Linked DNA regions of Homo sapiens. The protein of the gene in region 2 purifies or fractionates together with the protein of the main gene of each other region. This does not show direct contact. Each region holds a gene or a part of one and is shown on either strand. Other genes may lie near its edges.

The links.
Region 1: the proteins of METTL5 (region 2) and USP37 purify together in Homo sapiens (affinity purification with mass spectrometry, with the first as the bait; one study listed by BioGRID). This does not show direct contact.
Region 3: the proteins of METTL5 (region 2) and USP28 purify together in Homo sapiens (affinity purification with mass spectrometry, with the first as the bait; one study listed by BioGRID). This does not show direct contact.

The regions. Positions count from the first base shown.
Region 1 is NC_000002.12:218,495,292-218,498,945, reverse strand, and holds part of USP37 (ubiquitin carboxyl-terminal hydrolase 37), read left to right. Parts: intron 1-788; coding exon 789-920; intron 921-1,088; coding exon 1,089-1,212; intron 1,213-2,995; coding exon 2,996-3,186; intron 3,187-3,654. UniProt on the Homo sapiens protein: Deubiquitinase that plays a role in different processes including cell cycle regulation, DNA replication or DNA damage response.
Region 2 is NC_000002.12:169,814,894-169,818,547, reverse strand, and holds part of METTL5 (rRNA N(6)-adenosine-methyltransferase METTL5), read left to right. Parts: intron 1-2,169; exon of another isoform or gene 2,170-2,269; intron 2,270-3,019; coding exon 3,020-3,071; intron 3,072-3,654. UniProt on the Homo sapiens protein: Catalytic subunit of a heterodimer with TRMT112, which specifically methylates the 6th position of adenine in position 1832 of 18S rRNA.
Region 3 is NC_000011.10:113,868,952-113,872,605, reverse strand, and holds part of USP28 (ubiquitin carboxyl-terminal hydrolase 28), read left to right. Parts: intron 1-3,654. UniProt on the Homo sapiens protein: Deubiquitinase involved in DNA damage response checkpoint and MYC proto-oncogene stability. Involved in DNA damage induced apoptosis by specifically deubiquitinating proteins of the DNA damage pathway such as CLSPN.

The DNA.
Region 1 (3,654 bases), about 49 Mb from region 2:
TACCTAAACACATATATTCTATGACCCAGTAATTCCTTTTCTGAGCATTCATTTTCAGAGAAATGAATAAGTTATATTTAAATGAAAAAATAAATTATAAGTAAGAATGAAAAGCACTTTAGTTAAGCCCCCAGTCATGTTTAGCATTAATTTTGAAAATGTATACTTTTCCATTAGATCAAACTAAGTTATTATTTATTTATTTATTTTATTTATTTTGAGACAGAGTCTCACTCTGTTGCTGAGGCTGGAGTGCAATGGCACAATCTTGGCTCACTGCAACCTCTGCCTCCTGGGTTCAAGCGATTCTCGTGCCTCAGCCTGCAAGTAGCTGCGATTACAGGCGCATACCACCATGCCTGGCTAATTTTTGTGTTTTTAGTAGAGACAGTGTTCCACTATATTGGCCAGGCTGGTCTCAAACTACTGACCTCAAGTGATCTGCCTGCCTCGGCCTCCCAAAGTGCTTGGATTACAGGCATGAGCCACTGCGCCTGGCCTATTATTATAATGTCATAATGCAGTAGTTCTCAAAGTAGAGTCCCCAGACCAGCAGCATCAACGTGATCTAGTAACTTGTTAGAAATGGACATTTTTGTGCCTTCTTTTTTTGGACACATTTGTGTCCAAACCTACTGAATCAGAAACCTTGGGGTTAGGGTGTAGTAATATGTAGTTTAACAAGCCCTCCAGGTGATTCTGAAACATAAAGTGGAGAACTCCTACTATACTGAACATACTTTAGGAATTCCTGTTGCCTTCTAAAGCACTATTTCTTTAATTTTCAGCTTCTCCAATTTGGGAAATACCTGCTATATGAATGCTATTCTACAATCTCTATTTTCACTCCAGTCATTTGCAAATGACTTGCTTAAACAAGGTATCCCATGGAAGAAAATTCCACTCAATGCACTTATCAGGTAATCATTATGTACTGTACTTACTGAGTAACCTTTTACTTCATTGATTATAGAATAATGGAATTTTAGACACTCAAAAATTTTCTGTGCCATTATTAGTAATTATTCTTTAAAATATCACGCCATGTCATGTAAAACGTGCTAACTTTGTGTTTTTTGTTTTACTAGACGCTTTGCACACTTGCTTGTTAAAAAAGATATCTGTAATTCAGAGACCAAAAAGGATTTACTCAAGAAGGTTAAAAATGCCATTTCAGCTACAGCAGAGAGATTCTCTGGTTATATGCAGAATGTGAGTATTAATTGTTTTAAAACGTTTCAGAGGCCTGACACGGTGGCTCACGTCTGTAATTCCAGCACTTTGGGAGGCCTAGGTGGGCAGGTCACCTGAGGTCACTGAGGTCAGGAGTTTGAGACCAGCCTGGCCAACATGGCGAAACCCTGTGTCTACTAAAAATACAAAAATTAGCCAGGCGTGGTGGCATGCGCCTGTAATCCCAGCTTCTCGGGAGCCTGAGGCAGGAGAATTGCTTGAACCCGGGAGGCAGAGGTTGTAGTGAGCCAAGATCATACCACTGCACTATAGCCTGGGTGACAGAGCAAGACTCCATCTCAAAAAATAAATAAATAAATATTTATAAAAATAAATAAAATAGGCCAGGTGCGGTGGCTCACGCCTATAATCCCAGCACTTTGGGAGGCCACGGTGGGTGGATCATGAGGTCAGGAGTTTGAGACCAGCCTGGCCAACATGGTGAAACCCTGTCTCTACTAAAGATTAAAAAAAATTAGCCGGGCATGGTGGCACATGCCTGTAATCCCAGCTACTCAGGAAGCTGAGGCCGGAGAATCTCTTGAACCTGGGAGGCAGAGGTTGCAGTGAGCTGAGATCGCACCATTGCACTCCAACCTGGGCTACAGGGCAAGACTCTGTCTCAAAAAAATAAAAATAAAACAAATAAATAACGTGTAAGAAATCATGGAAATTGACATGATTTTAGTGTGTTTCTTGATTTTTATTTTAAAACGAGATTTGTGTATGTGTGTTCATTATAGATTGAAAAACCTGAGGAGAGGCTGGGTGCGGTAGCTCATGCCTGTAATCCCAGCACTTTGAGAGGCCGAGGCGGGTGGATCATCTGAGGTCAGGAGTTCCAGACCAGCCTGACTGATGAGGTGAAACCCCATCTCTACTAAAAATACAAAAAAATTAGCCAGGCGTGATGTCGCATGTCTGTAATCCCAGCTACTTGGGAGGCTGATGCAGGATAATCGGTTGAACCCTGGAGGCAGAGGTTGCAGTGAGCCGAGATTGTGCCATTGTACTCCAGCCTGTGTGACAAGAGCGAAAATCTGTCTCAAAGAAAGAAAGAAAGAAAGAAAAACCTAAGGAGCTGTAGTAAGATTAAATGTGACTCTTCAAATATAGATTTGATTTACCAGTGCAAGGACCTGGGCTGTGTTACCTGCGAAAATTACCTCTTTTAACAAAGTGAGGAGTTATTCATTGATTCATGTCAGTGCAACTGATATAATTATTAAGAATATATAATCTGTCATTTGTTTTTATTCACAAAATATGCAGCTCCCCAAATTCTTATAAGAATAAACCTGACATTGTTCACATATGTCATTGACTTTCAAGGGTTTTCACTGTATAAATTATAATGTTAATAAGCTATTATTTTTTGTTTGTTTTGTTTTTTGTTGTTGGTTTTTTTTTCTTTTCTTTTGAGACGGAATCTTGCTCTGTCACCCAAACTGGAATATAATGGTGCGATCTTGGCTCACTGTAACCTCTGCCTCCCAGGTTCAAGAAATTTTTCTGCCTCAGCCTCCCAAGTAGCTGGGATTACAGGGACTGCCACCACACCTGGCTAATTTTTGTATTTTTAATAAAGATGGCATTTCACCATGTTGGCCGGGCTGGTCTCGAACTCCTGACCTCAAGTGATCCGCCTGCCTCAGCCTTCCAGAGTGCTGGAATTACAGGTATGAGGCACAACACCCAGCCTCAGTAAGCTATTGTGACAAGAAATGTTTTTATCTGATTAAGGATATTGTTGTCTTATTAGGATGCTCATGAATTTTTAAGTCAGTGTTTGGACCAGCTGAAAGAAGATATGGAAAAATTAAATAAAACTTGGAAGACTGAACCTGTTTCTGGAGAAGAAAATTCACCAGATATTTCAGCTACCAGAGCATACACTTGCCCTGTTATTACTAATTTGGAGTTTGAGGTTCAGCACTCCATCATTTGTAAAGCGTAAGTAGTGTCTAAGAAATGATTTCCCTTTTTACTTCTTTATGGCAAGTGATTAAAATTCTTCTATGACATACCAAATGCCATGAATTCTTTTCTGTTTTTAAGACAGGGTCTCACACAGTTGCCTAGGCTCTTGGGTGCAGTGGCACAACCCCAGCTTATTGCAGCCTGGATCTCCTGGGATCAAGTGATCCTCCTACCTCAGCCTCCCGAGTAATGAATTTTTATCTCATCTTCCTTTCTACGTCATAGGGGAAATATAAACCAACAGATTATATCAAACCTTTTTTTCAGAGTCTTTTTCTATAGAAATGCTTGGGCTGGGCACAGTGGCTCATGCCTGTAATCCCAACAATTTGGGAGGATGAGGTGGGCAGATGGTTTGAGCCCAGGAGTTCAAGACCAGCCTGGGCAACATGGGGAAACCCCATCTCTACAAAATATATAAAAATTAGGCAGGTGTGGTGA
Region 2 (3,654 bases):
GACACAACATAGCTAGTAAATAAATCCTCACTCACTATATATGAAAGCAAACACCAGTAAACATTGGTATCCAAACCTGTGTCCCCAAGAACACCCTCAGGTTTGATGATTCACTAGGAAATCTCACAGGACTCAGCATCTAGTCTTATTCATGGCTATGATGTATTACAGTGAAAGGATATAGAGCAAAATCAGCAAGGAGAAAGGTGCATTAGGCAGAGAATGGGGTAAACCAGGGCCAGGCTTCTGGAGTCTTCTGCCAGTAGAATAACACAGGACACAATTAATTTTCCCAGCATGAATTATTGATAACACATGTGAAACATTGCCAACCAGGGAAGCTCATTAGAGACTCAGTGCCCAGGGCTTTTATTAGGGACTGATCATGTAGGCAATTCCCTTTCTGACACATACCCAAATTCTAGACTCCCAGTAGGAAAACAGGTGTTCAGCATAAACAGTGTTAGGCACAGTCAGTCACTATTATTAAGGGAGTAGGGAGTGGGAGGCTTCCCAAAATCTAAGTTCCCAGTCTCCAGACAAGGGCCAAACTAAGCAGGCCTTTCTAAGGATAAGCAGCCAGGCCTGCTGTGAACTCTTTTCTGCACAGCTTGGCATAACATGAATTTTTTTTTTAATTATACTTTAAGTTCTAGGGTACATGTGCACAACATGCAGGTTACATACGTAGACATGTGCCATGTTGGTTTGCTGCACCCATCAACTTGTCATTTACATTAGGTATTTCTCCTAATGCTATCTCTCCGCCAGCCCCCCACCCCCCAACAGGCCCCCGTGTGTTATGTTCCCCTCCCTGTGTCCATGTGTTCTCGTTGTTCAACTCCCACTTATGAGTGAGAACATGCGGTGTTTGGTTTTCTGTCCTTGTGATAGTTTGCTGAGAATGATGGTTTCCAGCTTCATCCCATGAACTCATCCTTTTTTATGGCTGCATAGTATTCCATGGTGTATATGTGCCACATTTTCTTTATCCAGTCTATTATCGATGGACATTTGAGTTGGTTCCAAGTCTTTGCTATTGTGAATAGTGCCGCAGTAAACATACATGTGCATGTGTCTTTATAGCAGCATGATTTATAACCCTTTGGGTATATACCCAGTCATGGGATGGCTGGGTCAAATGGTATTTCTAGTTCTAGATCGTTGAAGAATCTCCACACTGTCTTCCACAATGGTTGAACTAATTTACACTCCTAACAGTGTAAAAGCATTCCTATTTCTCCACATCCTCTCCAGCATCTGTTGTTTCCTGACTTTTTAATGATTGCCATTCTAACTGGTATGAGATGGTATCTCATTGTGGTTTTGATTTGCATTTCTCTGATGACCACTGATGATGAGCATTTTTTCATATGTCTGTTGGCTGCATAAATGTCTTCTTTTGGGAAGTGTCTGTTCATATCTTTTGCCCACTTTTTTGATGGGTTTTTTTTTCTTGTAAATTTGTTTCAGTTGTTTATAGATTCTGGATATTAGCCCTTTGTCAGATGGATAGATTGCAAAAATGTTCTCCCATTCTGTAGGCTGCCTGTTCACTTTCATGATAGTTTCTTTTGCTGTGCAGAAGCTCTTTAGTTTAATTAGATCCCATTTATCAATTTTGGCTTTGTTGCCATTGCTTTTGGTGTTTTGGTCATGAAATCTTTGCCCATGCCTATGTCCTGAATGGTATTGCCTAGGTTTTCTTCTAGAGTTTTTAGGTCTTACATTTAGATTTTTAATCCATCTTGAGTTAATTTTCATGTAAGGTGTAAGGAACGGATCCAGTTTCAGTTTTCTGCATATGGCTAGCCAGTTTTCCCAGCACCATTTATTAAATAGGGAATCCTTTTCCCATTGCTTGTTTTTGTCAGGTTTGTCAAAGATCAGATGGTTGTAGATGTGTGGTGTTATTTCTGAGGCCTCTGTTCTGTTCCATTGGTCTATATATCTGTTTTGGTACCAGTACCATGCTATTTTGGTTACTGTAGCTTTGTAGTATAGTTTGAAGTCAGGTAGCATGGTGCTTCCAGCTTTGTTCTTTTTGCTTAGGATTGTCTTGGCTATGTGGGCTCTTTTGGTTCCATATGAAATTTAAAGTAGTTTTTTCCAATTCTGTGAAGAAAGTCAGTGGTCGCTTGATGGTGATAGCATTGAATCTATAAATTACCTTGGGTAGTATGGCCATTTTCATGATACAGTGCTCTACACTTTCGGAGAAACTTCTCTAGTAACGAACTATAGAAATGATCCCTGAAAGTATAGTCTTGGCATAACATGAATTTTATAAAACTCAGTTTTACTGCATGAACTGAATTCCCCATGTACCTATATCTCTGCCAAATGGTTTCTAGGCTAGCTAGCTGTATATATCAATGAAATAATGCTACAGAAACCATATGAGAACATTACACATCTTTGATAGATTTCTGAAATAGTCATGCATCCTTTAACAACAGGGATATGTTCTGACTAATGCATTCTGAGGTGATTTCATCATTGTGCAAACATAGAGTGGACCACCGAGGCTCTGTGGTTATAGTCTGTTGTTCCTAGGCTACAAACCTGTCAACCTATTACTGTATTGAATACTACAGGCAATTGTAACACAATGGTATTCTTTTGATCTAAACATATATAAACACCAAGAAGGTAATGTGTTGTGCTGTGATGTCAAGATAGCTACATCATTAGGCAATAGCAATTTTTCAGCTCCATTTATAATTTTATGGGACTACCAAAATATATGCAGTCCCTAGATAACCCCAAATGGCATTATGTGGTGCATGAGTAGCTTTCTATCACTTGGATTTATTGTGTGATTTGGTTCAGATTGTTAAATGTATTGAAATTGATTTATTATTTTCAGAATACTATCCATTCAATTGAAATTTTTATAAGGGTCTAGATTCTAATGAAATTTTAAGCTTAAAAACTCAATCTCAAGTATTAGTAAAAAGCAATTTTAAAAAATCATTATTTAAAAATCAGCTCATAACAACATATTATTTATGTTCAGCATGTTCAAAAGAAAGCTGCAGAATGGAAAATCAAGATAGATATTATAGCAGGTAAGACAAATCTCAATCCTAATATCCAAAAGGGCCAACATGTATTCGCCCAACCAAAATTTTCATGCAGGTGCTGAGAAGATAAACTATGCTTTACAGTGTGGCAAAATGTGCATGATTGGTAATAGATTGGAAATGGAGTAAAAGCAGAATGAACACTTAGCCTGAGACTGTCCTAATTTATGCGATTTACTGAAAATTTCTAATAGCACTCAGGTATTTGGTCACTCCAGACTCAGGCAGAACACTGTATAGCAGCACAATGGCTAAAAACATGGGCTGGGGGCCAGGTGTGGTGGCTCACGCCTGTAATCCTAGCACTTTGGGAGGCCAAGGTGGGCAGATCACCTGAGGTTTGGAGCTCAAGACCAGCCTGGCCAACATGGTGAAACCCCATCTCTACTAAAAATATAAAAAATTAGCCAGGCATGGTGGCGCACACGTGTAATCTCAGCTACTTGGGAGACTGAGGCGGGAGAATCGCTTGAGTCCCAGAGGCAGAGGTTGCAGTGAGCCGAGATCGCACCACTGTTCTTCAGCCTGGATGACAGAGGAGACTCAGTCTCAAAAAAACAAAAACAAA
Region 3 (3,654 bases), on a different chromosome or scaffold from region 2:
ACCTTTCGTTTCCTTTTGTCTCATTAACTGATTTTTAAAACATCAGTAAGTCAGTGATTGGTTCCACAACTCTCATGCCCCTCTGCCCCCAAATGCAAACAGTATTTTTTTTTTTTTTTGAGACGGAGTCTCGCTCTGTTGCCCAGGCTGAAGTGCAGTGGCGCGATCTCTGCTCACTGCAAGCTCCGCCCCCCGGGTTCATGCCATTCTCCAGCCTCAGCCTCCTGAGTAGCTGGGACTACAGGTGCCCACCACCACGCCCGGCTGATGTTTCTGTATTTTTAGTAGAGACGGGGTTTCACAGTGTTCGCCAGGATGGTCTCGATCTCCTGACCTCATGATCCGCCCGCCTCGGTCTGCAAACAGTATTTTTAAGACTTACTGGCAAATAGCATCTTACCAGGCGAGATCTCTCCATGTGTTCTGTTTCATCAAAGAAATTAAATCAATAGTAAAATGAAGCAAGTACTTAACAAGGAAAATAATGCTGGTAATAGTAATAGCTAATGCTAATTGAGCATGCACTATGTGCCAGACTCGGTGCTCAGAACTTAACATAGCATTCTCTCAGTACTTACACAACTCCATGAAGTTTCTATGAGAAGGCTTATACTTGTTAAGTAATTCGTCCAAGGTCACCCAGTGAGGATATGGTACAGTTGGAATTGTATCTAGGCAGTTCTGACCCCAAGAGCCCAAGGCGCCCCTGGTCCTATCTCATAGTTGATGGGCCCATTGCCCTGGATCACAGACTTTCCACTACTCTTATAATGCCTTTTCTAGAACTCTCCTAATGTTTTAAACTTCCAGTCCTCCCTACAGTCTTTCTAAATAGATAATCTTCTTTTCTACTTGACTGAGCTCGCTGATGTCTAAAAAGAGCTCCCTGCCTTCTGTTTTGTCCCCCTCTCCCTACGCCATCTCATCTCTTTTCTCTTATTTCAGTGGAAAAGGTTCCCTTCCTTTTTCCCCCTTTCATTTCTTAGAGATAAACCTAGATTAATGGTTTTTACTAGGGAGAGATTTTGTAATCTAGGAAGCATTTGGCAATGTCTGGAGACTTTGATTGTGACTCTGGAGGGAGGATGCTACTGGAATGTAGTGCGTAGAAGCCGGGAATGCTGCTAAACATCCTGCAGTGTACAGGAGTAAGCCCCTCTAAACAGAGTTATGTGTAAATTGTATAAAATAGTGCTGAGCTTGACAAACTCTGATCTAGATGATGTCTCTCTTCTCTTTCTATTATGTCCCTTCTCCTTAGTCCTAGTCTAACCCCCAGACACCTTCACTGTCTTCTCCCTTGCTACTCACATTATGGTCCACAGACCAGCAGCATTCACATCCCCTAGGATTTAGACATGCAGAAAGTTGAGTGTGCTAGAGCCAGCTTGCTCTGCCTCTCCAGCTGATTTTGTACATCTCTTTCCAGCTCTGTGTTCAATGACCTCGTGTTGATAACTGTGCCAAGGTGGGAATATTTATACCAAGGAAACAAGCATACACTGCCAATCAGCATACCACTGCCTGTACCCCCACTCTAGACCTATTCAATCAGTTTCTGCCTTTTGACAAGATTCTTGGGTGATTCATTTGCATATTACATTTTGAATTTGCATTTTCCATTTTACCGTGCACTTGTCCTCTATCTTGAAACCAAATAACAACAACAAAAGTGTCTATTGCCCAGTCCAGCTGTTGTCTCCACCTTCCTCCTCTTGTTTGCTTTTGGAACAAAGTTTCTAACCCCACCTGTTTCATTTCTAAAACATTTTTCCAGTGACAATGTATTCAGACTCAATATACAAAACTTGGAAAAGACAGACTTGAGCAAGACTAACTCTTAGCTGACAGGAGATTGAGGAAGGTTGGTTCCCAGATTCTGCTACAGAGCTTAAGGTGGCAATAACAGCTTCTGCAAAAGCCAAATAATGAGATGGCCGTGTGGACCAGTCTGGGCTCCAGCAAATGGCTGATTGTTCAGAGGCCTGCAGAGGGACTGACTAGGCAGCAGCAGGTTAGGTTGAAAGGCAGTGAGTGGTTTTATGTAATCAGAATCTGCTCAGCAGCCTACTTTGCCAAGGCAGGATCTCTCCCTCTGTCACCCAGACTGGGGTGCAGCGATGTGATTATAGCTCACTTTGGCCTTGACCTCCTAGGCTCAAGCGATCCTCCCACCTCAGCCTCCTGAGTAGCTGGGACCACAGGCGTGCATCACCGCACTTGGCTGTTTTTTTAATTTTTTATAGAGACGAGGTCTTGCTATGTTGCCCAGGCTGGTCTTGAACTCCTGGGCTCAAGCAGTCCTCCTGCCTTGGCCTCCCAAAGTGTTGGGATTACAGGCATGAGCCACCACACCTGGCCCCCTCATACTTTTATTATTTTATGCTTTTATGATCCCTCATTACCACTTTTTTGCTGTTACTTTTTTCTTGTTTTGTTTTTTGAGACGGAGTTTCGCTCTTGTTGCCCAGGGTGGAGTGCATTGGCACGATCTTGGCTCACTGCATCCTCCGCCTCCTGGGTTCAAGTGATTCTCCTGCCTCAGCCTCCCGAGTGGCTGGGATTACAGGCATGCACCACCATGCCCAGCTAATTTTGTATTTTTAGTAGAGACAGGGTTTCTCCATGTTTGTCAGGTTGGTCTTGAACTCCTGACCCCAGGTGATCTGCCCACCTCAGCCTCCCAAAGTGCTGGGATTACAGGCGTGAACACCTGGCTCCAAATCTACATTTCTAATCCTGAGTTGCAAATGACTTCTATACTCTGTTTCCCAGTGCTTTTTGAACAGGTCTGCTTGAATATCAACCTCCTTGGCTATAAACGTTTGCTTCATACTTATTTTCCCAGGGTTGTTATACTAGGCATGGGAATGTACACTTGTATTACTCGTGTCTGCCATATGCTATGTACCACCCTAAGCACTTTTCCATACATTTTTATTTACAAAAACCCAGCAAGGTGTGAACTATTACCCTATTACTGATGAGGAAACTGAGATGTCTTGTTTGTTTTTTGAGATAGGGTTTCACTCTGTCACCCAAGCTGGAGTGTGGTGACACCGTCAAGGCTCACTGCAGCCTTGACCACCCAGACCCAAGCAATCCTCAGACACTTGAGTAGCTGGGACCACAGGTATGCACCACCACACCTGGCTACTTTTGTTTTATTTTATTTTTTGAGACGGACCGCAGTCTGTTGCCCAGGATGGAGTACAGTGGCGTGAGATCAGCTCACTGTAACCCCCGCCTTCCGGGTTCTATTGATTCTTCTGCCTCTGCCTCCCAAGTAGCTGGGATTACAGGCACATGCCACCACGCCTAATTTTTGTATTTTTAGTAGAGACGGGGTTTCACCATGTTGGCCAGGCTGGTCTTGAACACCTGACCTCCGGTGATCCGTCTGCCTTGGCCTCCCAAAGTGCTGGGATTATAGGCGTGAGCCACCGAACCCAGCCTGTGGTTAATTTTAAAAGTTTTTTTAGCAATGGGGTCTCTCTGTGTTGCCCAGGCTGGTCTCAAACTTATGAACCAAGTCATCCTGCCTCAGCCTCCAAAAGTGCTGGGATTACAGGCATGAGCCACCGTGCCTGACCTCAGATGTTAGTATGCCTTATAAGGGCCTCATATGAGATTTATTTTATTTATTCCTTTTCT